Linked DNA regions of Homo sapiens: regions 1, 2 and 3 are each linked to region 4. Evidence: fine-mapped expression QTL. A gene starts in region 4. Each other region holds a variant in brackets. All regions are shown on one strand. Distances are from middle to middle.

Region 1 (8,100 bases), 46 kb after region 4:
TTGGAGTGCAGTGGCGTGATCAAGGTTCACTGCAGCCTCTACCTCCCAGGCTCAGGTGATCCTCCCATCTCAGCCTCCTGAGTAGCTGGGACTACAGGAGCATGCCACCACACCTGGCTCTTTTTTTTTTGGTAGAGATAAGTTTCGCCATGTTCCCAGGCTGGTCTCGCATTCCTAGGCTCAAGCGATCCGCCCACCTTGGCCTCCCCAATGTTGGGATTACAGGCGTGAAACACTGCGCCCTGCCAAGAAACATGTTTCAATAAAATTGTTAGGAAATCAAGTGTGTGATTTGTGATGCAACTCTCTCCTCTATCTCCCTAAGAAAACATCAGTAAAAACAGTGAACTGTTTTGTATTTTTGGAGTCTGATCAGGACTCATCTTATGAATGTGGGAAGGCATCCAGCCAACACAGGGTAGGCCCCGGATGAGAGTAGGGACAGCGAGGTAGGCCCAGAGTCATTAGCGTTTACATGCCGCTTATGTGCTTGAGGATCGCAGAATGGAACTCTTGCTAAGCCAGAGCTGTATTTGGTGGCCCATGGTGGGAGAGGGAAGAACAATAATAAGTTGTGGAATAAAAGCCATGGAGAGGAGCGGGAATTACTTAATCTGGCTCCAGAAGGGGTGAGTTGTGGGGAAGTAGTGATTCTCAGTTCGTTTGCTCAGCCCAGTCAGTGCCTGACACTCAGGGTGCATCTGCTGACTGACCGTACAGGATAAAGGAAGGGAGAGGCCGGGTGCGGCGGCTGAAGTCTGTAATCCCATCACTTTCGGAGGCTGAGGTGGGTGGATCGCTTGAGGTTAGGCGTTCGAGACCAGCCTGGGCAACATGGCGAAAGCCCGTCTCTACTAAAAAATACAAAAATTAGCCCGGAGTGGTGGCACATGCCTGTAATCCCAGCTACTCGGGAGGCTGAGGCATGAGAATCGCTTGAATCCGGGAGGCGGAGGTTGCATTGGGCCGAAACCGCGACTCTGCACTCCAGTCTGGGCGACAGAATGAGACCCCGTCTCAAAAAAAAAATCGGCAATCGGTGAGGCGGGGATTATTACCCTCAATGTAGAGATTTAAAAAATGAGGACTGAAGGTGACTCCTTCCAGGTCTGTCAGTGGCCAGCAAAGAGCCAATATGCTAAACTCTCCCCTCCCGGACACCGGCTTCAGCCAGAGCTCGCACCCGCCTGCGCCGCTCCACCCACCCACACTTCCGGCTTCCGCTCCGCCCACCCCCTAGTACTTCCGTTCTCCAGCGCTGGGCACCGCGGCCGGAGCTGTGGGCTGGTAAGTCTGCGCCGCCAGGGCTCGCATGGCCTTCAGAAGCGGTCCCTGGGCTGGGCGATGACGGGTCCTGGTGGCAGCAGGCCCTTCTTTCTCGCATCACCGGGCATTACGCGGCAGCCATTTCCCTCGCTAAGGCCCTACCTTAGGATGACGTCACTTCCGGCCCCCTACTGTCTAGGGAAAGCCGGAAATGGTACCAGCCTTCTTTGATGGCGGGGAGGAGTCAAGACCGGTAGTCTTCCTATTTCCGTTGTTTTGCTCTGGAGCCTCCCGGAGTTTCGGAGAGACCGTGTCTTGGATAGAATTGGAGGACTTAGCAAATAAAAATGCAAAGCGTCCAGTTACATTTTTTTTGAGTTAGAATCTCACTCTGTCACCCAGGCTGGAGTGCAGTGGCGCGATCTCGGCTCACTGCAACCTCCGCCTCCCCTGTTCAAATGATTCTCATGCCTCAGTCTCCCGAGTAGCTGGGATTACGGGCGCCCACCACACCCGGCTAATTTTTGTATTTTTAGAAGAGACGGGGTTTCACCACGTTGGTCAGGCTGGTCTCGAACTCCTGACCTCAGGTGATGCGCCCGCCTCAGCCTTCCAAAGTGCTGGGATTACAGGCGTGAGCCACTGCGCCGGGCCACGTCCAGTTAAATTTGAGTTAAGATAAACGACGAATAATTGTTAAGTCCTAAACATTGTATGCACATACTTATACTTTAAAAATTACTTGTTTATTTGAAATTCAAATTTAACCGGAAGTCCTGTATTTTCTCTGGCAGCCTTAGCATTGAGCGTCCCCCTGTCCTGTGCTCATACCCAGTGGCAAGGCTGGGATCTTCTAGGCTCTTGTCCATCTGGGAAATAGATACAAATTTCATCCAGGCTATAAAGACCGGCTGTCTTAGTTGCTAAGATGCTTTTAGCTCCAAGTCCAATGGGCAAGCTCCAGGGGTCCCCCTGGCCAAAACTGGACCCATTTTCGGAATCCCCATGACGATGCCCTCTGTGTTCCCTTTCACAACAGAAGTCAGGCATGGCTGTCTTTTCTTACCGGAGAGCTGAGAACTAGGCAAGCAAAATGGTCAAAGTCTAGAAGTAACCACCATATTTGGGTGTGGGGTAAACCGGTGTTTGAGATCTGTGTTGCAGTGGACAGTATCAGAGAGCCTGAGGTTGTTAAGGGAAGAGCGTAGTGTTAATCTCACCCCATGTCTCATTTTGCGGATGAGGCCCAGTGAGAGAAATGGAGGTGTCCCAGCCACTCAGAAAGCCTATAGTAGAGCTGGAACCTCAATTCCCAGCCTCCTTACCCTGCTCAGTCCATACTTGCTGATGAAGTCAGCTTGCAACATTTATGGTAGGCATTTATTAAAGTAGATGCAATAGTACATATGTAGTACAGATGAGCTGTTTGGGTCTTTGTTGTTCCTATACCCCTCTACAGCTTCCTGACCTTCGCCCCAAGGCTTCTTTAGCTTTTACTCTGCCCAGTGGGGAAAATGGCTATGGGCTCAGTTATGGGAGCCTGGCCTTTGCCTACTTCAGCCCTTGGGCTCTCACCACTGTGGGTGGTGTGACCTAGGACTTGTTTTTGTTATCTTGGAACCAGAAGGCGTGTTCTTGGCAGGGTTGGGTCTGGCCAACTGTGTGGGTAGAAGGGCATCCTTTTCTGTCCTGCAATTGGGCTTCATGGCACATGGCCTCACATGGTGCCTGGGGACTTTTCTAAGGTTCCACCATGAGCCAGACTTTGCCCTCACTCCTGATTTGAACCTAAACCTCTTGCTGAACTGGTCCTGCATACTGAGATTCCTCAGATTGCTTGCCCTGAGGATGTGTTCTGGGTTTGACCTGATAAACCTGCAGCCTCCTATAGACCCTGACTTCCCAGGCTCCTAATCCCAGTCTCATGAGATAATGAAATAGAGAAGACTGGAGGTCAATGGGCTCAGGGTCAGTTGGTGGGACAATCAACAGCTTCCTGGCAGCAGAGGTGGTAAAGAGGCAAGGAAGGAGTGCCAGAAAGGGGCGTTGCCCCAGGGTAACAGCGCAGAAGTGCAGGGGGTGGAAAAGGGGTGGGATGGGAGCCCACTGGTAGAAATTACTCCCTCTGTCAATGATTAACTCCCAGCCAAAGGGGTGACCTGGGAGGAGGGCCCAGCTAATAGGAACTTTGGACTTGAGGCAGAGTATCCAGAGGGCCGGCATGTGGTCTGCAGAAGAGGAGGACGTGGCTGGGTGGCAGGGCTGGTCTCCAAGGACGAGTAAGATCCTGCAGCTGCAGGCTTCAGGAAGTCTCCTGGGGCTATCAGATGGCTCCTTCTTGTAGCAGCAGCTGTGGGGTCCACTGGCCCTGAGCCCTCAGAGGGGCGGCCGTGGGGGACCTCCTGTCTTTTGCCTTGCAAGGGCCTCAGTTGTGCTTTTTCCCTCTAGGCAGCCATGGGTGCCAGGCAGTGCTGAGAGCAGTGGGGCATGGCTGCAGCCCTGCAGGTCCTGCCCCGCTTGGCCCGAGCCCCCTTGCATCCACTCCTCTGGCGGGGCTCAGTGGCCCGTCTGGCCAGCAGCATGGCCTTGGCAGAGCAGGCCAGGCAGCTGTTTGAGAGTGCTGTAGGTGCAGTGCTGCCGGGCCCCATGCTGCACCGGGCACTATCCTTGGACCCTGGTGGCAGACAGCTGAAGGTGCGGGACCGGAACTTTCAGCTGAGGCAAAACCTCTACCTGGTGGGCTTTGGCAAGGCTGTGCTGGGTATGGCAGCTGCAGCTGAGGAACTACTGGGCCAGCATCTTGTGCAGGGCGTGATCAGCGTTCCCAAGGGGATCCGTGCTGCCATGGAGCGTGCCGGCAAGCAGTAAGGAGCCATGGGGGCCTGCCTCCCTCTATCTATCTGGAGGGAAACCTGGGCCCAGACACAGGCTGAATCGGGCCTCCCCTCCCCACCC[G/A]CTTCCCATTTCTCCTGGATCTGGCCTGGCCCCAGGATGCATGTCAGTGGGCATCTTCGTTCATGCCCCCATCACCTGTAAAGTTGAGAGATCAGGTGGGAGGAGAGGAGTCCACCCCATCTCTTGCGTGCTGACCTTTCCCTCCCCAGGGAGATGCTGCTGAAGCCACATAGCCGTGTCCAGGTATTCGAGGGTGCGGAGGACAACCTCCCGGACCGCGATGCGCTGCGGGCTGCACTGGCCATCCAGCAACTGGCTGAGGGACTCACAGCTGATGACCTGCTGCTCGTGCTGATCTCAGGTGTGGTACCACATTGGCCCAAGACTGTTGGTGGGGGGTGCACCACCTGATCTCTCAGGTCTTCGAGAGATCAGGTCTGAGCCCCCGGGGTCACAGGGTAAAGTTAGGAGCAAGGGAGGTGGTGAGGAGCCTGGATGGTGACTCCTGGGTTGCCTTGGGCTAGTCGTCTGGCCTCCCCTGAGCTGTGGAGTCCTCCCCCTGAGCTGACCTTTTCGGTGACAGTGAGAGGGTGCATGGGGAGCACATAATGCAGGGCCTGACACATCCGTAGAGTCCTTGGAAAATGTCACTGCTATTGCTGCTGTCTGTACTAATGTCACCTGGGGCTAGGCCCTCAGACCTCATGGAGTCCTCTCCTTGATCTTCCATTGTGTGCCCCCTGCCCTGCCTCCTGTTCTAGTCTCTTAAGGAGTAGTTAGTTCTTCCGGTGCCTACTGGGACCTGGGGTACCCCAAGGCAGGGGCAACCTCAGGTGGCCAGGATGTGGTGACTGTACACATATTGCATATCCACAGGGGGGCACCCTAACCCCACCTTTCCAGCCCCCTTTTTCTAATGTGGGCTTGTCACCCCTGCTTGCCTGGTTCCCTGGGTTGGGATAGCCCCTCTACCTGATACCCTCATTGTCTTGAGAGGTGGGGGTTCAGCTCTGCTGCCTGCCCCCATCCCACCTGTCACACTGGAGGAGAAGCAGACACTCACTAGACTGCTGGCAGCCCGTGGAGCCACCATCCAGGAGTTGAACACCATTCGGAAGGCCCTGTCCCAGCTCAAGGGTGGGGGGCTGGCTCAGGCCGCCTACCCTGCCCAGGTATGAGTCCCTTCTTCCCCAGGCAACCTTGGGTTGGTGGAGCCAGGCCCACATGTGCCAGGGATGTGAAAGCTAGAACAGCATATAGATTGGCAGGGGCATGGTGTGAAAGACCATGGGGCCGGCTGGGTGACATCATGGGAGGGGTGCCAGAGACGGGGAGGAGGTGCCTGCATGACCAGGTGTTTTGCAAGCCCACGTGAGAGGAGTTAACCATGGGTAAGGAAATGCACTGAGTTGGGGGAGGGTGTGTGGATACCCTAGGGGCAGTTTGTCCTTATGGGCTCTGAGGGGAGGAGGAAGTGGGCCTGAGCCTTGTCTGGTGGCCCTTCCCCAGGTGGTGAGCCTCATCCTGTCAGATGTGGTGGGGGACCCTGTGGAGGTGATTGCCAGTGGCCCCACCGTGGCCAGTTCCCACAATGTGCAAGATTGCCTGCATATCCTCAATCGCTACGGCCTCCGTGCAGCCCTGCCACGTTCTGTGAAGACTGTGCTGTCTCGGGCCGACTCTGACCCCCATGGGCCACACACCTGTGGCCATGTCCTGAATGTGATCATTGGCTCTAATGTGCTGGCGCTAGCTGAGGCCCAGCGGCAGGCCGAGGCACTGGGCTACCAGGCTGTGGTGCTGAGTGCAGCCATGCAAGGTGATGTAAAAAGTATGGCCCAGTTCTACGGGCTGCTGGCCCATGTGGCTAGAACCCGCCTCACCCCATCCATGGCTGGGGCTTCTGTGGAGGAAGATGCACAGCTCCATGAGCTGGCAGCTGAGCTTCAGATCCCAGACCTGCAGCTGGAGGAGGCTCTGGAGACCATGGCATGGGGAAGGGGCCCAGTCTGCCTGCTGGCTGGTGGCGAGCCCACAGTACAGCTGCAGGGCTCGGGCAGGGGTGGCCGGAACCAGGAACTGGCCCTGCGTGTTGGAGCAGAGTTGAGAAGGTGGCCGCTGGGGCCGATAGATGTGCTGTTTTTGAGCGGTGGCACCGATGGGCAGGATGGGCCCACAGAGGCTGCTGGGGCCTGGGTCACACCTGAGCTTGCCAGCCAGGCTGCAGCTGAGGGCCTGGACATAGCCACCTTCCTAGCCCACAATGACTCACATACCTTCTTCTGCTGCCTCCAGGGTGGGGCACACCTGCTGCACACAGGGATGACAGGTACCAATGTCATGGACACCCACCTCTTGTTCCTGCGGCCTCGGTGATGGCATAGGTCACATTTTGGGAGTTCAGAGGAGGCCTACAAGGGCAAGGTCAGATGGCAGAGCAAGGTTGGTCCTCAGGGCCTCTCTAAGCCTTAGGGCCCCTCCTCTCCTTGGCCTTGGCTGTTTGGTTAACTGTCACCTTCCACTCAGGGCCTCTGCTCTATATCTATTCCCTTCCAGCCAGACTGGCAGATGGGGGCTTCCCCCTACCCCTGAGGATGAGGACAAGCCCCTCGGCCAGTTCAGCGTTCCCGTGCTTCTCCCTTGGGCAGCCTCTCTCTTGAGCCCCTCACCCTGTTTCTTTCTGTGAAGCGAGAATGTCTGAAAATAAATAGGACCATGCCATGGGTTCTCAGTGCGCCTTCCCTCAGAGTGAGGCCTCACGGGGGAGCCGCTGGGAGGGGAGCGTGGTACGGCTGCAGCCACAGTACCAGGGCCTGGCAGGACTCTTAACACCCCTCTACTGGGCTGGGTACGTGCAGGATGTGCCTCGCATAACGGGAGCCTGTGCCCATCCCTCTGGAGTGTGTGAGGGTTGAGCTTGGCTCCTGACAGCTTTGATGTGCGTGAGCAGAGACCCCAGGGAGGACAGGCCTAAAGACTGCAGTCTGGGGTGACCAGCCACCCACCCACCCAACCATGACTCCACCATGGCACTGTCACCATGGCTTCTCCAGCCTCAGCTTGTAGGCCTCGTTGGATGGATGTCCTTTCTGTCTTTGGACAGCCCTTAGCCACATACTGCACTTCTGGTTGAGCTGAAGTTTGTCCCACCCCCCAGTGCTGTTTCCTTGTGACAGCCCTTGTCCTAGGCTGAACATCCCTAGTTCCTTCAGCCACTCCTCTGGGGACCAAGTCCAGACCCTGAAGTCAGCCCTTCAGTGGGGGTCCCAGCACTGGGATGGTGGGTCCAGCCAGTGATGAGGTCCAGTGACCCACACCTCTTCCTGTGACCACTGGCGGGAGAAGAGGCAAGTGGGAATAGAGGAACGGCTGTGTTGGCCTGGCCAGCAGCCTGGGTTGAGAGAGGGAGGTGCCACTGTCCTGCCTCCTTTTGAGCCCCCTTGCTCAGTGTCAGAACCCTCCGCTGGCTGTCCCCGCCGTGCGCCACGGCTCCAATCCCTATATGAGTGAGCAGTAGAATCACATAGGAATAAAAAGCCATAGAGAACAGCGAGGCCTGGGGCTGCTCTTGCAGGCACTTCTTCCACCCCAACCCTCCCCTCCTCCCTGAGGGTGTGGAGGGGCCCTGGGCCAGGGCTGGCAGGACTTTCCCCTGGGAAGGGTTTCCCTTCCCCACCTGGGCTCTGGGCAGCCTAGCTTGCAGACAGTTCATGACCTGGGGGCCTGGCTCACACAGGGCAGGCTGGAGATTGGGAGGGAGGTAAACGTGGTAAGCGGGCTCTGGGGACCAGGGAGGTTTAGGAAAAGGGGAGCTTGCACCCCACTGGGATGCGCAGGCACCGCTTCCTTTCCTTCTGTGCTGGCATGGAGTTCCTGCTGACTAGGGTCACAGTCTCTGGGGTTATGGTGATCCTCGCATGATCCTGTGCCGTGGTGCTC
Region 2 (8,100 bases), 830 kb after region 4:
TAGTTCCTCTGGCCCAGGGGAACACGTGTCCTAGAGGCAGCTGCTCCTGGCGTCACTGTTGGTAGGTCCAGATGAAGGACAGGCCTCTGCCTGGGAGTGTCAGGATGCAGAGAGGCTGCCTCATTCCTGCTGCGGCAGCCAGGGTCCCCACACACTCACACTCATGTCAGCGAGGTCACAGGAGGTCGTCTCTACATGAGGCTGTGATAAGGCTGCGTGGGAGCCTGCATGCAGGCTCAGCATCATCCTGCCCGGGCGGGAACCCTGGTCCACCCTTGCTGTAGGACTTCAGTCAAATGACAGCCTCTCTTGACCCTCAGTTTCCCCAACTGCAAAAGTAGCACCCGACAACATGCACTGACCCCCCAGGGCTGCTGGGCGTGCTTGGCTGATGGTTCACTCTCAGAAGTATCTGTCCCTACCCACCTCGTAGGTGCGGTCAGGTGAGTTCTTCTCTGCCTCTGTTTCCACACTGCACCTGGAAGAAGCTGGAGGACCTGCTCTCCTAATTGCTCCTCTACCACTGATGTTGTAAGAAGGGGACACTGACTTGTCACTCTCTGCCAATGTAGGAGCCAGGCACTGTCTCTGTTGGCTCAGGGCTGGGCTCCCAGGAAGTAAAAGCCTAAAGGCTCAGGGAGGCCATTTAAGGTCTAGGGTCCAGTGGACTTTCGGACGCATCGCAGCCTCCGCTGAGCCCTTCTAGCAGGCTTGTGGTGACTGCACCCTGGGGCGGCTGCTCCATTGTTTCCTGTCAGTCCCGCTCATCTGCTCAACAACCCTTTGGAGGAAACACACAGGAGGGTCCTGCCCTCTAGTGGCTGCCGGCGGCCAGGTCTCTCCTCACAGGGCTCCGCCCGCGACCTCAGAGGAGCCCACCGCCCTCTCTGCCTGCTCTAGTGCCTGCCGCACAGCAACAAGCAGGCATTTCCTGGGGGTGAAGCCGAGGCTGGCCCCATGAGCTGACACCCAGCAATCTTCATCTCCGAGCACCTTTGAGTCCTGGGGGGCCCTGCTTCCAGATGTGAGCCCCCAGCCCGTGGGGCTGGGTGGTCCTGGGCTGTGCCACAGGGTTTCAGCCCACCGCGAAGGAGGCCTGACGGTGTCCAGGTCGAGGGCACCTGTGGGCAATGATTGACATAACACTGCAGAGAGAGAGCCTGGTGGGGCACCGGCCTCTGCCCAGGCTGGGTTCCGGGGCCTTCCCCCATGTGCCCACATCCCATGCTTCCCCCGTTACAGCCTCTGCCGTCAGACTGCGCACCAGCATCTGTGGGTGAGGAGAGAACCTGGGCTGGGGCTTGACACAAAAGGGGCTTTGCCTCTGGACACCCCCACCTGTGCCGCAAGTGGAGGGGGCGGGGAAACGGGGAGGAGGGAAAGTAAGCGGAAGTCCCGCCTCTGTGGAAGCGCCTCTGCACCCTTTGTCCCCCAAGGGAAGCACAAGTGTGTGGCCAGTCAGATAAAGCAGGCCTTTCCTTGCCTTTATGGAGCCACGGGCTGAGGCTGGACCAAGGGTCAGTGAGGGGTTCAGGAGGCCCCCTCTGCGCCTCTCTTCCAGGCCCTGAGCCCATCATTCCCTTCGTTGTTAGAGTGAAACTGTGAAGAGCCGCAGCTCTGTGCCGGGCGAAGAGGATTTGGCAGTGAAAAGGATGAGCTTGCCTTGCCCTGGGGGCAACTGGCACCTGGGGTAAGAGGTGGCCGGTGAGAGCCTGAGCCCTCTGGAGAGCAGAGGCCCCGTTGTGCACAGAGCCAGTATACCCAATGCTCGGGGAGCTCCCAACAACCCTACCCAGCCCTGCGGGAGACCACAAAGCTCTAGGGAAGAGCCTGTCCCAGGAAGCACAGGGCTTCGAAGTTCTGACAAGGACATCGGAGTTCCAGGCCCACCCCACACATGCACACACTTCCTGCTTCCAATTAGCACTAATTGGACGACTGGGAAAACCCACAGACCATGAAGCAGAAGCAGTTAGGTCTGCGGGGCCCCGGTGAGGCAGGCCCTGCGAGGGCCCAGGTGAGCCAGGCTCTGGGGGATGGGCCCTGGGGTCTCTGTCTCTCTGAGAGGGGATCAGGTGATCAGGGCCACATCTGCCAGGATCCCTACTGGCCCCTCTGGAAGACGGAAATTGTCCCAGGGCCAGGGCAGAAGCTGGGTGTGGGGGAGCCTGACAAACACCCCCTCTCAGCCTGGCATTTAAGGCTCCCCTAAACCTGGCCCTACCAGCATCCCCCCTCCCAACCTGGTCTCTTTCATTTCTTCTGCTCCTAGTTCTCACTGCCTAAGTCACCCACTGATTAATTCTTTATGTCACTCCATCTATTCATGTATTACGTGTCCAGGAGCCCTCCTGTGGCCAGATCCTGGGACCACAGAGATGGATGTGCCAGGCTTGGCTGGTCAGGTGGACCTTGGAGCCAGGACCTTTTCCAGGGTCCCCAGAGCACTGGATGGTCAGAATCAAAACAGGGCTAAGGCAGGTCCAGGGGAGGGGAGGGTCCTGATGCTCACCTCCTTCCTACTTGAGCAGCCCTCTCTCCTACCACCTATCCAGCTAGGCCTGGGCCCAGGTTGGCAGAGACCACATTGCAGGGCAACCCCTCTGCTGGCTCCACTTCATTCTTGGTGGGAAGAAGGAGGCCAGGCTGAGCACTGCATGCGTATGAATAGAAGTATCAGCTTTGCTTGGCACTCTCTGGGTGAGGCTTTGTGTCCCTTGATCCTTTAGACCGCACTCAGGGTATGTGCCAGGCTGTGTCCACATCCATGGCCAAGCTCAAGACAGAAGCTCTGCCAGGAACAGCTAGGACTAGGGGGCAAGAAGAGAAGCAGGCACCAAATCTGAGCTGCTCTGGGGTGGGTCTAGCCCGTGGGGAGAAGCAGGGACTGGCCCTTAGCAAGAGGCTGGCTCTGGAACTTGCATGCTGGAGTAGTCTGGGCCCCAGCCCCAGAGTGAGGGCCCCGAGTCAACCCTTTATATAATACTGCATGGCTCAGGCCCTCAGCCCTGAGCAGGGGTAGTGAGAACAAGGCCCCTTGCCCCACAGGTGTATGTCGGGCCTGACCCTTGGGCCCCGTTCTCCAGAACATCCCCACCACAGAGACAGAGGCTCAGCTCCACTCCCTTCCCTTCCCCTGCTTAGAGACCAACCTGGTCCTGGGCAATTTGGTGTTGCCATGACAACCACATACTTTCTTCTTCCCCACTTAGCCGATTGAATCTGAGTTGCAGATGAAATCCTGGTGAGTTGTGTGTTTAGAAAGCATGCGGCCATTTGGAGTGCTCCATGCATCTTTCATCTCCCAGACACCTCTGACACCCATCCCTTGTCTCTTGATGGCTGAGGGAGAGGATATGCGGCCTGTACCCTCTCCCTATGCCTGGGGTAGTCCTGGCCCAATGGCACAGCCTCCTTGAGGTACAGCCTCTGGCATGCAGGAACACATGGATGACATTCTCATGGGCAGCCTCTGTGGTGAGTGGGCCCTGTGAGCTGGATGGCAGTCACCAGGAGCCTCCGACAATGCATAGTCCTCTCCATCGTGAGGCATGTGGTGTCTGGGTAAGAGCTCTTGACTCAGGAGGCTCTCTCTGTCCCCTTCAGGAATGTGTGCTGCCCTTAAGGACTTGGGCCACCAAGACTGGGAGTTGCTGGCCAGGGGCCCCCAGCATCATCTTAACCTTCATGCATTCCCTAGGGCTGACCTTAGCCTCCTCTGACCAGCAATGAAGAGTCACCTGCAGCACAAAGCTGGCTGGGAGCAGGCTCAGAGCTCAGCCCCGAGATGGGGGAGACGAGACACAGGGAAGTAGTAAAAGTGGCCCCATCTGTGATGAGCAGGGTGCTGGTGGCCCTGGGAGGCAACCTCAGCTTGGCAGTTGGGTAGGGCTGGTTTAGCAAGTTTAAGGGGAAGTTAACATGGGGTGATCAGA[G/T]AAAAGTGGGGCTGGCTCTTTCTCCGATCTGCCTGGGTGGGGGATGGAAATCAGCATGGGGCATCTTACCAGGAATGGTCACCCAGGATGGACAGGGAGACCTGCCTCTGTCCTCTACACTCAGGGCCTGAGGCCCCTGCCCCACACTGCAGATGTTAAACCCACAAAGTGGTCCCATTTGTGTGGCTGCCGCCCCACTGGGCTGCAGCATCCTGGGCAGGCGGTTGGCCCTTGAGCATAACTGTACCTCCTTATCTAGGCCTGCATTTCCACCCGGATCTTACTACCTCTCTGAGCCTCAATGTCTTCCCTCTGGGGAAGGGAGGCAGGGGCAAACGGATAGGTTGGTAAGAGTGGAATAAGTAGTGAGGGGTTCCTGGAGCAATGTCTCCAGGGAAAGCACACCTGCTGGGTGTATTTGGTCAGATTTGTATGATTTTGTAGGGAAGAATATAAAGTACAAATATAAAAAAGCAAATAAAAAAGACAGATAATTATAGCTTGAGGAAAAACAAAGAATCATAGCAGAAAGGAAATAGAATACTACTTGGTTTAGCAGAAAACAATGTTTGCGTAGCGTTAAACATGTAAACACTGAATATCAACTTACGCCAAATCATAGCATTTGAAGGATGGGGAGGAAATGTATGGAGAGGTGGCTATCAGCTCATTTTCCATAGTAGGAAATCAATGTTCTAAAGGTGAAAGAGGCAGGGTGCAGTGGCTCATGCTTGTAATCCCAACAATTTGGGCCAAGGCAGGAGGATCGCTTGAGGCCAGGAGTTCAAGACCAGCCTGGGCAACATAGTGTGACCCCATCTCTACAAATCATTTTAAAATTAGGCATGGTAGCACACACTTGTAGTCCCAGCGACTCGGGAGGCTGAAGTGGGAGGATTGCTTGACCCCAGGAGTTTGAGGCTGCAGTGAGCTGTGATTGTGCCACTGCTCTCCAGCTCAGCCTGGGCAACAGAGGGAGACCTCATCTCAAAAAAAAAAAAAAAGAGTGAAAGAGTCAAAAGAACTGAAAGCAATGGGTCAAGAAGAGGGGAATCAGTATTTCCAGCCTTGCAGTATTGCTCAACCTTAAAACTATGGGTCAAGAAGAGGGGAATTAGTATTTCCAGCCTTGCAGTATTGTTCAACCTTTAAAACTATGTACCATACGTGTATTGTTTTGATCAAAAGAGAAATTAAATATAAAAGCAGGTAGGATTAATATAAAACCTCTTAAACACTGAGGCTTGAGAGGTTTAGTAAACTGCCCAAGATCATGGTGTAAAGGACACAGCAGAGCTGGAACCTACACTAGGGTCTGTCTGTGCCAGAGCCCACAGCAGGCATGAGCGTGGAGTGATCTTGTCAAAACCTTAGAATCCACCCTTGGACCAGGCAGCTCAAAGACCTTCCCCAAGCACCAATGCATGCTACAAAGATGAGCCTCCAGCATAAGGGGCTGCACCCCATGCCTGTGGGCAGGGAAACAAGGCCCTTGAGCAAACCCCTTCCAAAGCCACTAGCCCACAGAGGCCCTGTCGCCCACAGAAGGAGCCAGAGCAGTTGGCAGAGCCCCTTCCTCGGCTGTTCCGCTTCTGTTTACTGGGTGGCTTTTGTTCCCTAGCTTCCCATCCAGCTAGGCTGGTTAATCAGATTCTCTGAGGGGAGGGCTGGGGCATCAGTGACTTTACTGACACCCAGAGGAATTGCTTCTTGGGAAGCAATTACTTGTGACAGGTGCACACTCCCAGCGGCTGAGCTTGTCTGTGGCTGAGGATGCCGTGGAGCCTGGGGGGACAGGTCCTTGTTGCTGGCTTGTGCTCAGCAGGGACACCAAGGTCCACTGCTCCTCCATGGTTTTCTTGGCCTCTGCAGGAGGAAAGACTGTCAGCTGAATGACCAAGTGACAGGTTGCCACGATGTCACAATTAATACAGACCATTGACTGGGAGGCTGGCATCATGCAAAGCCCTTTTCAGATGTGGAACCCAGGCGATCTGAACGGTTTGGCCCACTGACCTACAGGTCCTGAGTCTCAGGCTCCAGGCTGGCTGGTCATCAACTCAATATGACCTGGGCAGGCTCCCTTCCATCCTAGGCTCTCTTAGGGGCGAGGCTGGGGCTGAGAGGCGGTGAAGTTCACTCTCAGGGTTCATCAGCAGGCAAAATGGAGAAGGAGACCAGGCTCTTGGAGGACTCTGTGTCAGGATATTCACTTAACAGTTTACAACATAGAAAGTGCTGGGAATAACCTGCAATGGCATATTATAGTAAAAAAGGATGCTGTGCAGGACAGTGTGAGCACGGCACAGGTGCGTACCACGGGCAAAGTCAGGACTGGCCTCGGGCAGGACATGGACCCAGTGTTTCTGTGACTTTCTGCAGGGCACTGGTTGCCCTCAGGATAATTTGTAATTAAATAGCAAGAAATACATAAAATACATAATATCAGGAGATAAAATCACTTATCAGGAAAAATAACACATGGTATAGAATATTTTAAACTTGGCCAGGCACAGTGGCTCACGCCTGTAATCCCAGTACTTTAGGAGGTCGAGGTGGGAGGATCAAGAGTGTGAGACTAGCCTGGGCAACATAGTGAGACCCCATCTCTACTAATAATTTTTAAAAAATTAGTCGGGTATGGTGGCTCATGCCTGTGGTCCCAGCTACTCCAGAGGCTGAGGCTAGAGGATCACTTGAGCCCTGGAGATTGAGGCTGCAGTAAGCTATGATTGCATCACTGCACTCCAGCCCAGGCAGCAGCTCCAGATCCTGTTTCAAAAAAAGGAATATTTTAATCTCCACCGTGACCTCTGTGCTGGACTAGCTCCCCTGCAGGACCCAGGCTCCAGCCTTGGTATGCACAGGCCCACTGGCTCTCCAACTCTCCATTCCACCCCAAAGAACTGCTGAACCCCAACTTTTCCTTGGCCCCACAATGGCCCTGGAGCAAGAGTGAGCAGGGATTATTAGAACCTTCTGCAGATGGAGAAAAGGCAAAGCTACCTGCTAGATCTCACAAGGAGTAAAAGGCAGGGCTGGGATCGGAATACAGTTCCGGGCTCTCCAGCTCTGTTGATTGTCTGGATCAACAGCAGGTCCTCTGGCCCAGTGGGCAGTGGGGATGTGGTAAAACATCATTTCCAAGCTTCAAAGGCAACCAGGACTCCTGCACAGTTGAAGGGAATGTCCCACAGACGCTGATAGAAATGAGGGAGGCCTTTAGCAGTGGGCTGTCGGATCAGAACCAGGTACACTCAGGTCACGGCTCTTTGACAATGAGAAGGAGGAAGAGGAAGGCCTGATGGATCCCCACTACTCAGATATGACCCACACCCCAAATGTCCATGGCCTCACACCTTCCCCAAGGATCAGCGCTGGGCCCAGACACATCTGGTGTCTCCCTGATGTCCACAAGTCTGTAGGCAGAACACTCTTCCCTTCCCAGGAAAACTCCACCTTATCAATAGTGTTCAGGACAGCACCCTAGGCTGGGCACAGTGGCTCACATGTGTAATCCCAGCACTTTGGGAGGCTGAGACGAGTGGATCACCTGAGGTCAGGAGTTCGAGACCAGTCTGGCCAACAGGGCAAAACCCTGTCTCTAGTAAAAATAGAAAAATTAGCTGGGCATGGTGGTGGGCGCCTGTAATCCCAGCTACTTGAGAGGCTGAGGCAGGAGAATCGCAGAGGTTGCAGTGAGCCTAGATCGCACTACTGCACACCAGCCTGGGCAACAGACCACGACTCTGTCAAAAGAAAAAGACAGCACCCTCTGGGCATCCTAAATTCAAAGCTGCTTCTGGCAGGAGAAACCAGTCCATCTTAACCTGGCATCCTACATCCCAGTGAAGTAAAAAAAACAACAAAGCAAATCAGTGTTTGCAACAAAACAAAACTCAGCAAGTTTCTGGATCAGCCTGTGATGAGTGGGTTCAAGGTGAGGACATTGGCAATTGGTGGGTGAGGCCATGTGGGGGTGCAGGGGTGTCCTCGTGGGCCACCGTGGCCCGGGCCTTGGAAAGCCGAGACCAGGAGAGCTCATGCCTGTGGCCACCCAACACATGGCAGGGCCCATTCATGCCTTTCCACTTTCTTCAGAAACTGCCACAGCAGCTGTCCCTCCCTGGACAAAGCCACCTTCTTTCCTGACGCCAGGGCCCCA
Region 3 (8,100 bases), 620 kb after region 4:
AAGTACATCTTTTGGAAAAGGTGAATATATGGAGAGTATATAAAATTCAAAGAGTATATTATTTTAGTAGTGTTGTATGGTATTTTTTTCAATCTCTCTTCTTTCAATTTTATATTTAAGTGTAAGAAGCATATAGGTGAGTTTTCCCCTCAAAATCTAGTTGGCAATGATAATGGCTGAATGGTGGTGTCCTACGTGGTATGTCCCACAACCCCTGATACCTGCAAATGCAGCCTTATTTGGAGAAAAGGTCTTGGCAGATGTAATTAAAGATCATGAGATGAGATCATTCTGGACTAATCTGGTGGGCTCTAAATCCCATTACAAGTATCCTTATGAGAGATGGAGGAGAGATGGAGGAATAGAGACAGAAGGGGAAGAGAAGAAGGACCTGTGAAGATGGAAGCAGAGAATGGAGTTATGCAGCCACATGCCAAGGAATCCTGGAGCCACCAGAAGCTGAAAGAGGCAAAAAAGGGTCCTCTCCCAGAGCTGCTGGAGGGAGTGTGGCCGCTGCCCACACCTTGACTCTGGACTTGGGGCCTCAGAACAGTGAGAAAACATTTCTGCTGTTTTAGGCCAAGAAGTTTGTGATTATTTGTTATGGCATCTCTAGCAAACTAATAAAGATTCTTTTCTCTTTTTCTTTCAATGAAATTCAGAGTACATGTATTAGTCCGCTGCTGATAAAGACATACCCGAGACTGGGAAGAAAAAGAGGTTTAATTGGACTTACAGTTCCACATGGCTGGGGAGGCCTCAGAATCATGGCGGGAGGCAAAAGGCACTTCTTACATGGTGGTGGCAAGAGAAAATGAGGAAGATGAAAAAATGGAAACCTCTGATAAAATCATCAGATCTTGTGAGACTTATTCACTACCACAGGAACAGTATGGGGGAAACCACCCCCATGATTCAAATTATCTCCCACCAGGTCCCTCCCGCAACATGTGGGAATTATGGGAGTACAATTCAAGGTGAGATTTGGGTGGGGACACAGAGCCAAACCACATCATTCTGCCACTGGCCCTTCAAATCTCATGTCCTCACATTTCAAAATCAATTATGCCATCTTAACAGTCCCCCAAAAGTCTTAACTCATTTCAACATTAACCTAAAAGTCGACAGTCCAAAGTCTCATCTGAGACAAGGCAAGTTGCTTCCACCTATGAGCCTGTAAAATCAAAAGCAAGCTAGTTACTTCCTAGATACAACAGGAGTACAGGTATTGGGTAAATACAGCCACTCCAAATGGGAGAAATTGGCCAAAACAAAGTGGTTACAGGGCCCATGCAAGTCCGAAATCCAGCTGGGCAGTCAAATTTTAAAGCTCCAAAATGATCTCCTTTGATTCTAGGTCTCACATCCAGGTCATGCTGATTCAAGAGGTAGGTTCCCACAGTCTTGGGCAGCTCCACCCCTGTGGCTTTGCAGGGTACAGCCTCCCTCCCGGCTGCTTTGATGCGCTGGCGTTGAGTGTCTGCAGGTTTTCCAGGCTAACAGCGCAAGCTGTTGGTGGATCTACCATTCTGGGGTCTAGAGGACAGTGGCCCTCTTCTCACAGCTCCACTAGGCGGTACCCCAGTGGGGACTCCGTGTGGGGGCTCCGACCTCACATCTCCCTTCCACATTGCCCTAGCAGAGATTCTCCATGAGAGCCCCACCCCTGCAGCAAACTTCTGCCTGGGCATCCAGATATTTCCATACATGTTCTGAAATCTAGGCGGAGGTTCCCAAACTCCAATTCTTGACTTCTGTGCACTCGCAGGCTCAACATTATGTGGAAGCTGCCACAGTTTGGAGCCTGCACCCTCTGAAGCCACAGCCTGAGCTCTACATTGACCCCTTTCAGCCATGGCTGGAGCGGCTGGGATGCACGGCACCAAGTTCCTAGGCTGCATATAGCACAGGGACCTGACCCACGAAACCATTTTCTCCTAGGCCTGTGATGGGAGGTGCTGCTGTGAAGACCTCTGACATGCCCTGGAGACATTTTCCCCATGATCTTGGGGATTAAATTTGGCTCCTTGTTACTTATGCAAATTTCTGCAGCCAGCTTTTATTTCTCAGAAAATGGGTTTTTCTTTTCTATCACACTGTCAGGCTGCAAATTTTCCAAACTTTGATTATGCTCTGCTTCCCTTACAAGACTGAATGCCTTTAACAGCACCCAAGTCACCTCTTGAATGCCTTGCTGCTTAGAAATTTCTTCCTCCAGATACCCTAAATCATGTCTCTCAAGTTCAAAGTTCCACAGATCTCTAGGGCAGGGGCAAAGTGCCACCAGTCTCTTTGCTAAAACATAACAAGAATCACCTTTGCTCCAGTTCCCAACAAGTTCCTCATCTCCATCTGAGACCACCTCAGCCTGGACCTTGTCTACATCACTATCAGCATTTTGGGCAAAGGCACTCAACAAGTCTCTCTCTTTTCTTTTTTTTTTTTGAGATGGAGTCTTGCTCTGTCACCTAGGCTGGAGTGTAGTGGCGTGATCTCGGCTCACTGCAACCTCTGCCTCCCGGGTTCAAGCAATTCTCTTGCCTCAGCCTCCTGAGTAGCTGGGACTACAGGCGCCTGCCACCATGCCCAGCTAATTTTTGTATTTTTAGTAGAGATGGGGTTTCACTATCTTGGCCAGGCTGGTCTTGAACTCCTGACCTTGTGATCCACCCGCCTTGGCCTCCCAAAGTGCTGGGATTACAAGCGTGAGCCACGGTGCCCGACTGCCATTCAACAAGTCTCTAGAGAGTTCCAAACTTTCCCACATTTTCCTTTCTTCTGCACCCTCCAAACTGTTCCAACTTCTGCCTGATACCCAGTTTCAAAGTTGCTTCCACATTTTTGGGTATCTTTTCAGCAATGCCCCACTCTACTGGTACCAATTTACAGTATGATAAAGATGCATCCAAGACTGGGAAGAAAAAGATTTAATTGGACTTATAGTTCCACATGGCTGGGGAGGCCTCAGAATCATGGTGGGAGGCAAAAGGCACTTTTTATATGGCGGCGGCAAGAAAACATGAGGAAAATGCAAAAGCAGAAACCCCTGATAAACCCATCAGATCTCATGAGACTTATTCACTACCACAAGAACAATGTGGGGGAAACTGCCCCCATGATTCAAATTGTCTCCTATCAGGTCCCCCCACCCCAACGTGGGAATTATGGGAGTACAATTCAAGGTGAGATTTGGGTGGGGACACAGAGCCAAACCATTATCAGTACAAAATATATTCAGTGAAAAGTCTCCCTTCTGGCTGACATCCCAGTCCCTCTGTTTCCCTTCTCAGGGCCAACTACTGTCCCCAAGACCTTACATATCCTTTCAAAGACATGCTGGACAACCACACAGATGCACAGATCTGTGTGTGTGTGTGTAGGGGCGGTGGGGGGACACAAACCGTCACATGCTTTACACGTTGTCTAACCTTCCTGCTCTCACCTACTGTACACATGGCTCCATTTTCTTTCATTAGAGGCTACATGGCATCCCACAGTGTGGCTGTGCCATCTCATTTACTCTATGAGCTGCTGCCGCGAATGTCCCTGCCATGTGCTACCTCTGCCTGTGTGGGCCCATATCTGAGGGGCAGATTCCTAGAGGCACACTTGCTACATCAAAAGCTATGTGCGGCTTATTCTGTGGCGCCGCTCTCCACAGAGGCTGTGCCAACTCACACTCCCACTAATAGCACGAGTACCCATTCCCACATTCTTGCCAGCATGGTGTACTAGCAAACCTTCTCACTCTGACAATTTGATCGCTGAAGAGGCTGTCTCAGCACGGCTGCGGCGTGCACCCATCAGGCCACTTGGGTGCCAGGGCACCTGCGGGGCTTGCCACCGTCTACCGCCTTGAGGGGCCTGGCAGGGCTCCCAGTCCCACCCCATCTCACCTGCTCTCTCCTCTCGGACATGAGCCCAGAGCCCCTCCTTTTCCCCATGCTCACGCCCTCCCCTGAGGATACCAGGGTGTGGTGGTGCTCACTCTCCCAGAAGTTTGGGCAGTGCTACTGGTGCCACACAATAGGACAGCAATTATGGATGACTCAACTCTACCTGTCGACTTCACACAG[C/T]ACCCAGGTCACCGACTGCTCACTTAACGCTATGTTGTTTGGTTTTCCACACGCCACTCTCACTTGGCATGTGGAGGGCGGGGACCAGGCACCCAGCTCGACTGTCCTCCTCAGAGCCCGATCTGGGCTGGCGCTCCACGTGGACCCACTGACTAGCAGAAGGAAGTTGGAATTTTACACTTGATGTCACAGAGTGGTAGAGTAACAAGTCAAAAAACACAGGCGTTGGAAGGGATATAATTTCCAGGTAGCAGCTGCAGCCCTATTTAGAAACTGAGTCAAAAAGCACAACTGTCTTGAGATTAAACACTCAATTTAAGGGAGGTGCAGCCCAAGAGATGCAGGGATAGGGGGAATGTGGTGGGCTCCTGTCAGGTGCAGGGAAAGGCGTGTGGCTGCATAAAGACAGGGAAGCCGGGGTCTCCCGGCTGCAGCCCTGGCTACCAGGTGGTACAGTCCCTTGCATCCCTCTTACCAGATGGCATTTTTCAGACCAGCAAAACATGGGTGGAAAATCACCCCCTGCTGAGGATACAGAACAGGAAGAGGCTCATGAACCTGGCAGGGCTCTTGGCACAAAGCTGCTCTTTGCCATGAAAATCCACCGAGGCAATTCAGTTAAATATTTGTATTGTTACATCTACAGTGTAACCTTAAAGCAGGAGGATCATCACAGGCCTCCCAGTGGCCATTTTAGCTTATGACTTTCCAAAAGTAGAAATGTAAGATGCTTTGGATCACTCTCCCTCACAGACAGCAGGAAGTCCTGGGACACAAAACCGCTGGTCCTTGTGTGAGACGTTGGACCTCAGTGCATGAGCAGGTTTCCCAACTCTCAGGAATGGGGTGCTCTGGAAGCCATGAGCTCATACGCCATAAGCCTGTATGCTTTCTTGTTCATCCCTGGGGAAAAATACTCCCACCTTCCAATGACCCGGAGGCAGAAACACACCCATAGTTTTGGAGCCCTCTGCCCCATGGCATGTTGCTGAACAGGACCACTCCCTGATGGCCTCATTTCTCAAGCTGTCTCACGGGCCAGTGCCTCCTGCAACACAGGCGAGTGCTGAGGCAGCGGACTCTTCCCCTGGGCAAGTGGCAAGCAGCGCCACCTCCAGCTGAATATCAGCTCATAAACTACGCAGTGTGGCTCCCATTCAGAGCCAGAAGGGTCCTTGAGTGTCCAACCCCCTCCAGGGTAGGGTGTGGAAAATGGTAGGGGAATTGACTTGTCCAGAATCACCCCAGCAGTTAGTAGAGGAGCCGCAAAGAAAGCCAAGTCACCCGGGCCAAGCCTTTCTCTAACCAGCACTGGTCAGGCCAGTGACCTCAAGCCATGCCTGGCTGGTCCTATGGAGCCCAGGCCCCCTCTCCACAATTCTTGACCAGGTCTCCAGTGCTCCAAATGGCAGAAACTGTCCTGAGGGGTGAGCAAATCTATCTGCTGGAGGGAACCAGCAGTCAAGGAAAAACCCAGAAGTGTTTCTGCACCTTCCCTAAGTGATAAACGAACATCCCAACAACCAGGCCCCACTCAAACCTCCTCAATGCCCTGTAGTAGGGCTAAAAACCCAGAGACGCCCAGGGAAAAAGTCCCCAGAAGTCACTGAGGTAGCCTGCTGGCTGCTTCCCAAATCCATTCTCTCATTCTTCCTTGCTAAGAGAAGCCCCTTGGTCAGGCAACTTAAAGACTATATTTCCCAGCCTCCCCTGCTGCTGGTGTGGCCATGTGACTCAGTTCTACCCTAGCAGAACTCTAAATCCAGGTCAGGCCACTTTTTAAGGAGAAATGGAGGTCCAGGTGATTCTTATGGCAGGGAACTAAGGGCAGTCAAGTCAGGAACAGCTTGAAATCTAGTTCCAGCTTTATCCAAAATTTTATGATTTTAAGCCAGTCACTTAACTTTTCAGAGTCTGTTTCTTCAGTTGTCCACTTCATGGGTTCACTGTGGGGAGAAGAGCAGCTGCCGTTATGGCTGTCATGCTGTCACCACCTATTGAGTACTCACGTCAGGAACTTGATTATTTTATTATTTTATTTTTTGAGACAGTGTTTTGCTCTTGTCGCTCAGGCTGGAGTGCAGTGGCGAGATCTCAGCTCACTGAAACCTCCGCCTCCTGGGTTCACGTGATTCTCCTGCCTCAGCCTCCTGAGTAGCTGGGATTACAGGCACGCGCCACCATGCCTGGCTAATTCTGTATTTTTGGTAGACAAGGTTTTACCGTGTTGTCTAGGATGGTCTCGAATTCCTGACCATAAGTGATCCGCCTGCCTTGGCCTCCCAAAGTGCTGAGATTACAGGTGTGAGCCAATGCACCTGGCCACACCTCAGGAACGTTATATCATTGCTTCTAATCTTTCTGACAACCCGGCAAAGTATCATCTCTATTTTACAGATAAGGTCATGGGGTTTGCCATTGCCAAAATGGCACCACCAAGAGTTGCATCTAAGTCTACCTGAATCCAAAGCCCACATTTCCCCTGCCATCTTGAGGGGAATACAAAACTGACTATAATCATCCAGTGAGAAAATCATCCAACTGATCCCTCAAGTTGGGAGAAAAGGCGCTGGTCTGGTGCTCAAAAAACTCCCAGAATCAAGGCCATCCCTTTGCCTTAGCAAGTCCTCCTGACTCCAGTCCTCTCGCCTGAATCCACCCCGACACTGGACCAGAGTGAACTGAGCACGCTGCTCCTGGCCTAAAACCCTCCAGTGCCAGCCCCACATCCCCAACATCAGAGGACATAATACAGGCTTTGTAAGTTGGCAAAAAAGGGCCCTGATGGCCTGGCATCTCCCACCTTAGTGCTGTCACTCATACTGTCCCCTTGGCGTGGGAGGGGCCCTCCATTTCTTCTCTTGGATAGTTCTTAGGCATTCTTCCAGATTGTTCCCACTGCTCTAAGACATCTTGCTTAGCTCCCTGCAATTGAACCAAGTGCCCTCCCTTCTCCTGGGTCCCCAAAGTCTCTTATGCACATCTTTGGACAACACTTCATATGCAATACTAAGCATCTGCCTGTCTCCCACTAGACAATTAGTTAAGGAGGGATACAGAGACCTTATCTTATTCATATTTATACCCTTGGCACCCAGGCCAGTACCTGGAATGAAGTAGGCACTTAACTACTAAACTGAACAAACAGAGCAGAACATACTGGTGTCCCATCACAAGTCAAAGGTGGCAGAGCTTAGTGTTTGCGAGTATGAGCTCTGGGTTCAAAACCTGGCTTTAGAGCCGACTGTGGGACCAGGGAGACTTGCTTAACATCTCTGGGCTTCAACTGGACTCTATAAGATGGAAGAAATTATAGTATACAGCTCACAGGAGTATTAATAAAACAATATACTTAAGAGTATTACAGCCATGCTTTGTACTTGGCAAGCACCATGCACATGCTAGCAAGAAGCAGCAGCTAGAGGAACTGCTGGAGGAAGAGTAAATCTTTAAGCACGAAGTCCACCTGCAGGAAACAAGAAAGCACACATCTGGCTTCAGCCTCCGGAGTAGCTGGGATTACATCATGCCCGGTTAATTTTTGTAGAGACGGGGTTTCACCATGTTGGCCAGGCTGGTCCTGAACTCCTGACCTCAGGTGATCCACCTGCCTTGGCCTCCCAAAGTGCTGGGATTACAGGTGTGGGCCACCACACCTGGCCTCTTTTTTTCTTTTAAATTATAAATCATTGCAGTAAGTTTGGAAACCAGGGAAAGAGAAAAATCATCTAAAATGTCACCATCTGAAAACAACCACGATCACTGGTGGTTGTATCACCACGGTTGTGGTTCCAAATCTGGCCTGCGCTTCCCACGTGGGAACGGACCCAAGAGATATCAAGCTACCCCAGGCTGGTCGGCCTCTGTCAGCCCAAAGGCTGAATGCTGGTGCTGGGAGGTGAGCACACGAGAGTGGCAACAGGGACAACCTGGGCCCACAGGAGAGAAACACGAAGCCATCAAGACTCTCAAGTTCTAGGCCTGCCATCCTCTGCCCAGGGTGAGGGCACTAGTGACTCCACGC
Region 4 (8,100 bases):
CACACCCACAGGAGCATCTGGTGATTCCACAGAACCACAAGAGACTTGACCTCCTGGAAATGAATTAACCAAGATTAATGAAAAAGATTAAGGTCATGTGCCCTGTAAAAATGTCCCTCACTGGATGAACTGTGACAAAGTAGGGTACTGCGTGGTCTCCCCAGCTGACCCTCTCCATGGGTCATTCTTTGCTTTTATCACTACCTGGCACAAATCTTTACGTATTTGTTTATCGTCTTCCCTCCACCAGTAGTTAGGTGTTTGCCCTTGCTGTATCCCCTGTGCCTAGAACAGTGCCCAACATTGGCAGGTGGCCAATAATTGCAAAATAAGCAAATGTATGAATGAACCATTAGATGCTTTGTGTTGTATACTTACTACCTGCTGGGCACATTTATTTAATCCTCATGACAGCCCCTGAAGTAGGTGTTACTTTTTCCATCTTACAGATAAAGACTCTGAGGTTTGGAGAGGTGAAGTGATTTGATCAATGTCACATGGTAGTGAGTGAGGCCAAGAATCATAGTTTCATTTTATTCGAGAAGTTGGGGGCCAGGTACAGTGGCTCATGCCTGTAATCCTAACACTTTGGGAGGCCAGGGTGGGAAGATCTCTTGAGCCTAGGAGTTTGAGACCAGCCTGGACAACAACATGGTGAGACTCCATCTCTACAAAAAAAAAAAAAAAATTATTTTAAAATTAGCCAGGCATGGTGATGTACACCTGTAGTTCCAGCTACTTGGCTGAGACAGGAGGACTGCTTGAGGCCAGGAATTCAAGACCAGCCTGGTAAAGATGGCAAGACCCCATCTCTACATATATATATCTATAGATAGATAGATAGATTAATAGATAGATATGTATTAGCCAGGCACAGTCACACATGTTTGTAGTCCCAGCTACTTGGGAGGCTAAGGCAGGAGGATCACCTGAGCCCAGGAGTTAAGGGCTGCAGTGAGCCGTGATCACACCACTGCATTCCAGTTTGGGTGACAGAGTGAGGCTCTCTTAAAAAATTTAAAAATACTGAAGAAACAAAGGGAGGAGTTTGTAGAATCTGGAGTGGAGGAAACTTCTGTGTCACCAAACACAGAAACCATCAAAGAAAATCTTTCACTTCCAAAATTAGTCTATAGAAAAAAAAAAAGAAAATCTTAACCCAAATAAGAGACTGAGGCAAGAGCTTCAATCAATCGAGGTTTACTGAGCCAGAGTTGGAGCGTGCCCAGGAAAGCAACACAAGTCAAAGAAACGTCTGTGGCCTGTGCTCTCCCAAGAAGTTTTCAGGAGGCTCAATATTTGTACATTTCTTTAAAGGGGAGAAGACAGTGAGGCAAATGGTTATGTTTTTGTGAGACTCTTAATTAGTGTCCCGTAAATCTAAGCTATATGGAAGATAGGGTGAACACTGGAAGAACAGGGAGTAACAGAAGAGCCAATTATGCAGAGGTCTCAGGTTAGGTGGAGGAATGATTGATCTCATCTTATCCTTGTTCTGCACCTGGGCAGATAAACTTGTAATTGACATTGTCAGTGTGAAATTTAACAGACTTTGGTTTTAGGAGTTAGGTTTAGGTTGCAGACCTAAAGTTGCAGTTGACATGTCCTTGTTTTATAGGAGGATATACATCCTGAAAGTTTTAGGGACTGGCAAAGAATTTACTGCTGAGCAATTTGTGATTGCAGTCACCTGGAGATTCATGAGGCTTTTTGCCTTTTTGTGGGGATCTGGTTAATGCATAATATTTTGACACAAGGTTGCAAGGTAACAGGTATCCATTTGGGAAAAGAATGACAGTTTTGGAGAACATTAGTTCTGCAGCATAGAATGAAGTGTTGCCGGAATAAAATTAAAAAAAAAAAAAAAAGGCTGGGTGTGGTGGCTCATGCCTGTAATCCTAGCACGCCTGTAATCCCAGCACGCCTGTAATCCTAGCACGCCTGTAATCCCAGCACGCCTGTAATCCCAGCACTTTGGGAGGCCGAGGCGGGTGGATCACCTGAGGTCTGGAGTTCGAGACCAGCCTGATCAATATGGCGAAACCCCATCTCTACTAAAAATACAAAAATTAGCTGGGCATGGTGGCGGGTGCCTGTAATCCCAGCTACTGGGGAGGCTGAGGCAGGAGAATTGCTTGAACTCGGGAGGCGGAGGTTGCAGTGAGCCGGGATTGTGCCAGTGCACTCTAGCCTGGGTGACAGAGCAAGACTCCATCTCAAAAAAAAAAAAAAAAAAAAAAAAAAAAAAAGGAATGCCAGTGTTGTGTGGCTCAGTCTCCAAGCTTAACTCTCCCTTTAGCATAACAAATTTGGGGGTCCTGAAATTTTTATTTTCCTTTATGAAAAGATCAATAATCCATTTGCATAAAAAATAAAGTCTATATGGAAAAAGCCACCATCACAGCCAAAACACAAATAACAAACTGTAACTTGTTACAAACAGCATACTTGTAACTCATTTCAAAATAAAGAGCTGATTTCTCTAATATATAAAGAGCTCTCATAAGTCAATAAGAAAAAGACCAATGGTAGCCAGGCGTGGTGGCACATGCCTGTAATCTCAGCTACTCAGGAGGCTGAGGCAGGAGAATCACTTAAGCCCAGGAGGCAGAGGTCATGGGGAGCCGAGATCACACCATTGCACTCCAGCCTGGGCAACAAGAGCGAAACTCTGTATCAAAAAAAAAAAAAAGAAAAAGAAAAAGACAAATGGCCCAGTAGAAAGTGTGGCAAAGGATACAAACAGACCATTCACAGAAAAAGATAGATAAATAACATCTCTCAGGAAAGTACCTCCCAGTCACCCTTTGTTGGAAAGTTGTTGAAGGATGCACTTCAGCAAAATGAGGGAGTAAACCAAGAGACATAGGCTTAAGATCCAGGCAAGAGTGAGGCGCTTAGGAGCCCAGGAAGCCAGAAGAGCCTGGTAGCACTGAAGGAACACTCAGGCCACCTTGGAACAGAGAGGATGGGATTGCCATGTGGTTCCACATGGCTCTGAAAATAGACAATGGCTAAGCTGTGCAACAGACTGCCTATGACATTTGGTTGCCCAGAGCTTCTGTGAAAATACTTCAGGACAAGGCTTTCCCCCACCCAGGGGTGGGTTGGGGAATAGAGTGTATGCACTTTGTTTTGTCCAATTTTAGACTTTAAAATCCTCTGAGGCATCAACTGGTGAGGGTGAGGAAGTGGCCCCATAGACTGAATTGGGCCTGCCCCACCCTGGTACCTTTCTGTTCTGTCACAGTGACAATTCACAGCTCAGAGGTCCTTTGGGAAACTTTCTCTGACATCGCCCCTATCCTCTTGCCAGCTGGATGAAGCAGCATCCACCAGAACTGCTACCATCACTGCAGGGGGCTTGGTGGGCAGAGGCCTGGCTTGTCTCCATTAGCACTGCGTTCCTGTGCCCAGTGTGGCCCCAGCAGACACTGTGGGTTCAGTCAATCAGCCCCCAGGCTGGTCTGGGACTGAGTCATCGGAGGGAGTGGGTGTTGGGCACAGGTCCCTGCCCTAAGAACCTTCCTTCTTGGGCCCGAGGAACTCCCACTGGGGCAGGACTAGCTGCTGGGAGGAAGTAGGGCTTACTGAGCGTCTACCTGGGCTAGGGAGTGGAGGTGAAGGTGGACTCCTCATACAGCTCATATGCAGGCACTGGGCTGTGGAGCCTTAGCCGCTTTTAATTGGCAAGCCCTGGCTTCCTGGAGGAGGAAAGGGGAAGAGAAGTGCCCTGGGGGCGAGGATTGAGTCAGCTGCATTGTCATAATGGAAATAGTACAGCCCTGGGTGTCCAAGACTTCCCCTCCATGGGCCTCAGAATCGTCCATATGATGTAACACTCTTTTTTTTGAGACTGAGTCTCGCTCTGTTGCCCTGGCTGGAGTGCAGTGGCTCCATCTCGGCTCACTGCAACTTCTGCCTCCTGGGTTCAACCGATTCTTGTGCCCCAGCCTTCTGAGTAACTGGGATTACAGGCGCACACCACCACGCTTGGCTAATTTTTAGTACAGACGGGGTTTCACCATGTTGGCCAGGCTGGTCTCGAACTCCTGACCTCAAGTGATCCGCCCGCCTCGGCCTCCCAAAGCACTGGGATTACAGGCGTGAGCCACTGCCTCCGGCCAAAGTAACACTTTTGCACAGGGAGTTGGACTTGAGTGACAAATGGGTGACAAAGTGCTTTGTTAACTCGCAGATGTGAAGGGGACACTGCGGCTGACCGCCTGGTGACAGCTAGCCAGTGGTTGAGAGACCGCAAGATGGTTCCTCGTCTTTCACTTCCCTCCGTCCCAGGTCTGAACTCGGACCAGCTGGAGCCTTTGGGGGACCACGGATTCCCCTTTACACTCACACAGATTTCTCTTGTCCGTCACTCACTCACAGTCCAGTAAGGATCCTGCTGTCTATTCCGCGAAGACATCTTGAATGCAGGGACAGCCATTTGGAAGACTGTCCTCGAGGGTGGCAGCAGCCTCTCAGGACGGGGAAAGCCAAGGTGCCCACTAAGCCCGTCTGGGGTGGAGGGTGGCAGGCCGGGGTGGAGAGGATTGGAGGCCGCCTGAAGGAACCTGTGCTCGGTGGCATTTACTCAATGTGGGGGTCTGACACCTCCCAGCTCATTTTGTCCCCATCTTCCCCTTGCGTCAGGTCCCCACCCAGCAGGAGGAGGTCCGAGGATCTGCGCGACGCTGGCCCCGCGGAGTGTGGGGGACTTTTCCTCTCAACCACCAGTGCCCCGCAAGCGTGGGTGAACAGTCCTCCCTGGCTACTGTGGGACGCTGGGCAGGCGACTTCGCCTCTCTAGGCCTCGGTTTTCCTGCTTGTCAAATGGGGCTGATGCCGGCGTGGGCTTCTTCAGGCGGTCGCGAGCGTTGACCCCTGGAGTCAGCGAACCAGCCGCGCACGCACTCCCGGGCGGAGGTCGGGGCTGGGGGGCGACGCCTCCCGTCTGCGCGCCCCCGGCCCCGCCTCCCGCCGGCGCACCCCTCCCTCGGCTCCGCCCGCGGCCCGCTTCTTCCTCCCGCGGGCGGCCCAGCCCTAGCGCCCCGCGCTCCGCGGGCAGCCCCCTGCCGCCGCGCCATGTCCGCCGGCTGGTTCCGGCGCCGCTTCCTGCCTGGGGAGCCGCTCCCCGCGCCGCGGCCGCCTGGGCCGCATGCCAGCCCCGTGCCCTACCGACGGCCCCGCTTCCTTCGCGGCTCCAGCTCCAGCCCCGGGGCGGCCGACGCCTCGCGCCGCCCAGACTCCCGGCCCGTGCGCAGCCCCGCACGAGGACGCACGCTACCCTGGAATGCAGGCTACGCCGAGTGAGTGCCCCTCCCCGACCCCCAGCTCAGGCCCGGGCCTGAACCCGCTTCGGGTCCTGCGCCCGCCTAGAAAGCGGGAGGAGCTGAGTGACAGTCCCCACCCACCTGTGGACAGCCCCTTCTTGCCCTCACCTCCGAATCCTGACAACTTCCCGGTCATCCCGACCCAGCGTTTTCCTTGGGATTCCGACCTCCCCCTCAGAGAAGACAGGAGGTCGGGAAGGACCTGCAGCCCAGGGGCTTCCAAGATGAGGCCCAGAGACTCGGTAGAGTTCCAGCATTCGGGGCTTTGGAGATTTCCCCTCGCCCTCTACCCCCACCATCTCACCCTGGGTATGACCTGCGCTGTATGGGACAGGGCTTTGGGCTGCGACAGGACAGGGGCAGGAATGGCAACCTACCCTTACCGTCTAGCCCTGGGTCACCAGGTAGGCTCCAGAGGAGCTGGGCCCTGACTTTTACCTTAGCCATGAGGCCAGTGAAGTTAGGAAGCTTACATCGTGGTTGTCTAAGTGTGTGTTAGGGACAGCACTGGGGAGCTGTTGCCCCAGAGGGAGGGGTCTTCTCCCTGTGCTGGCTTGGGTCCCTGTGCCCATGGGGACATAGGTGTGTCCCTGGAGGGTCGCTTACCATTTCCCGGCCTCAGGATTATCAATGCAGAGAAATCTGAATTCAATGAGGATCAAGCCGCCTGTGGGAAGCTGTGCATCCGGAGATGTGAGTTTGGGGCTGAAGAAGAGTGGCTGACCCTGTGCCCAGAGGAGGTGAGTGCAGTCTGAGTTCTTGGCTGGAATCCCTCCGACAGGCTGGGGCCACGACCTGCAGGCTGAGGTTCTTACCCTGCTGCCCCAGGTCCTAGTTAGGTTGCGTCAGGGGACAAGTGGGGAAGTCAGGCAGAGGCTGACACTGAGCCCTTCCTGTGCAGTTCCTGACAGGCCATTACTGGGCACTGTTCGATGGGCACGGCGGTCCTGCAGCAGCCATCTTGGCTGCCAACACCCTGCACTCCTGCTTGCGCCGGCAGCTGGAGGCCGTGGTGGAAGGCTTGGTGGCCACTCAGCCCCCCATGCACCTCAATGGCCGCTGCATCTGCCCCAGTGACCCTCAGTTTGTGGAGGAAAAGGGCATCAGGGCAGAAGACTTGGTGATCGGGGCATTGGAGAGTGCCTTTCAGGAATGTGTGAGTGTGTGGCTTTTGGCTGGGGAAGAAGTGGAGATTTTGCCCCGGGGATCTCAGGAAATGGCATCTCTGTATACCCATGGTCATCACACCAGATCCTTGGATTGGGAGGATGAGATTGGGTTGGTTGGATTGTTACTAACAGCCATCACTATCAGCATAACCCCTCTCATTTATCCAGCACCTACTGTGTGCTAACTGCTTTTACCTGCATCATCTAATTGAATACCCTATTGGTCCTTGGTGCAGGGGCTGGTTTCTCTTCCTATTTTGAGTAGCACTTCCCTTGTCTAGATCTCCTGACTGCAGGGATCTTGGAGGTATGGCTGGACTTTGGGCTGGGACTGTCAGGCCTGCTGGTAGAAGTGAACTGTAGGGTAGGGTGGGGATTGAGAGACAAAGTAGTATGGTGGCAGAACAGGCAGCAGCTAAGGTGGCCTCGGTTTTCCCCAGGATGAGGTGATCGGGCGGGAGCTGGAGGCCTCAGGCCAGATGGGCGGCTGCACAGCCCTGGTGGCTGTGTCCCTGCAGGGAAAGCTGTACATGGCCAATGCTGGGGATAGCAGGTGAGTCACCCCTTGGAGGGTGGGCAAGGGTGGGATGGGGAGGGCATAAGCAGCAATGGGGACAAGCAAAGGTGGCTGGAAGTGGAGGGATAGTAGGAAGGATTGACTGGCTGAATTGTGTGTGTACTTGTTATGTGTCGAGTGTGGACAGTGGCTGCCGGGGAGGGCAGGGACCTCAAAGGCCCCGCTAAAGGGCTAAGCCTTCACCCTTGCAGGTCTTAGGTAGTCATGGAGGGCTTTAAGGGATCATCATGGACAGAGCTGGATCCTGGTGGTTGGAGGAGGGACTGGTAGGAGGGTGGCCATGGGTGAGGGTGGAGGCCTCCTCCTAGACCTCTCCCTTCTCTCCTCAATCCAGGGCCATCTTGGTGCGGAGAGATGAGATACGGCCACTGAGCTTCGAGTTCACCCCAGAGACTGAGCGGCAGCGGATCCAGCAGCTGGTAGGTGCCCTTGGCAGCATGGAGGCTGTGAAGCTCCAACTCCTGGGTCCAGGGCCATAAGAAGGAGTATGACCTGAGCGCAGCCTCCCCACCCCAGGCCTTTGTCTATCCTGAGCTTCTGGCTGGTGAGTTCACCCGACTGGAGTTCCCTCGGCGGCTGAAGGGGGATGACTTGGGACAGAAGGTTTTGTTCAGGGATCACCACATGAGTGGCTGGTGAGTGGGGATGGGGGACAGGTAGGAAGGGAGACCCCTGGGATCCAGGCCCAGCCGTATGGCCTGGGGCCCCCCTCCACCTTGGCAGGGTGGCACTGTGAGGGTGTGACAGCTGGGCCCTGAGTTGGGGAAAGATGAGATGGGGCACAGGGCTTGGGTTGATGCTGGCTCTGCTCCTGGTAGGAGCTACAAACGTGTGGAGAAATCGGATCTCAAGTACCCACTGATCCATGGACAGGGTAGGCAGGTCAGTGCCTGGTCCTCCTCAACCCCAAGAATCCCTCTTCATTGTCCCCTGCAGAGGTGGGAGCTCCTTTGCCTCTTGCTGGTAGCTGTGGCTGGTGGCCTGGGATTTGCTCTGAGACTAGGAATTTTCTCTCTCAGTCCAA

What was found.
Region 1: its variant is fine-mapped to the expression of PPM1M in whole blood (TOPMed, PIP 0.90).
Region 2: its variant is fine-mapped to the expression of PPM1M in whole blood (TOPMed, PIP above 0.99).
Region 3: its variant is fine-mapped to the expression of PPM1M in whole blood (INTERVAL, PIP 0.96).

The regions. Positions count from the first base shown.
Region 1 is chr3:52,286,590-52,294,689 of GRCh38, forward strand. It overlaps GLYCTK (glycerate kinase), which reads left to right and starts at 1,239. Exons shown (of 5, transcript NM_145262.4): 1 at 1,239-1,287; 2 at 3,715-4,130; 3 at 4,371-4,522; 4 at 5,158-5,333; 5 at 5,671-8,100. The coding sequence starts at 3,754. The coding sequence ends at 6,537. GLYCTK-AS1 (GLYCTK antisense RNA 1) reads right to left here and starts at 3,144. Exons shown (of 1, transcript NR_046719.1): 1 at 1,991-3,144. MIR135A1 (microRNA 135a-1) reads right to left here and starts at 7,719; the gene lies at 7,630-7,719. It overlaps LOC107986086 (a long non-coding RNA gene), which reads right to left and starts at 1,431. Exons shown (of 3, transcript XR_001740699.2): 1 at 1,244-1,431. RefSeq lists enhancers at 824-1,565, 871-2,070, 897-1,006, 3,810-4,310. The variant G/A (reference allele first, on the strand shown) is at 4,222.
Region 2 is chr3:53,072,028-53,080,127 of GRCh38, forward strand. It overlaps a transcript of RFT1 not described here. Among named protein-coding and RNA genes, the nearest start is that of SFMBT1, 30 kb to the left of the region's middle. RefSeq lists enhancers at 616-665, 906-1,523, 1,016-1,135. The variant G/T (reference allele first, on the strand shown) is at 3,936.
Region 3 is chr3:52,862,520-52,870,619 of GRCh38, forward strand. The region is part of intron 1 of STIMATE-MUSTN1 (STIMATE-MUSTN1 readthrough); the gene reads right to left. The region is part of intron 1 of STIMATE (STIM activating enhancer); the gene reads right to left. Among named protein-coding and RNA genes, the nearest start is that of MIR8064, 20 kb to the left of the region's middle. The variant C/T (reference allele first, on the strand shown) is at 4,077.
Region 4 is chr3:52,240,743-52,248,842 of GRCh38, forward strand. It overlaps PPM1M (protein phosphatase, Mg2+/Mn2+ dependent 1M), which reads left to right and starts at 5,017. Exons shown (of 10, transcript NM_144641.4): 1 at 5,017-5,306; 2 at 5,953-6,070; 3 at 6,232-6,486; 4 at 6,940-7,052; 5 at 7,411-7,495; 6 at 7,593-7,711; 7 at 7,895-7,958. The coding sequence starts at 5,083. TWF2-DT (TWF2 divergent transcript) reads left to right here. Exons shown (of 2, transcript NR_135307.1): 2 at 1-355. RefSeq lists an enhancer at 90-618 and silencers at 4,891-5,260, 5,301-5,360.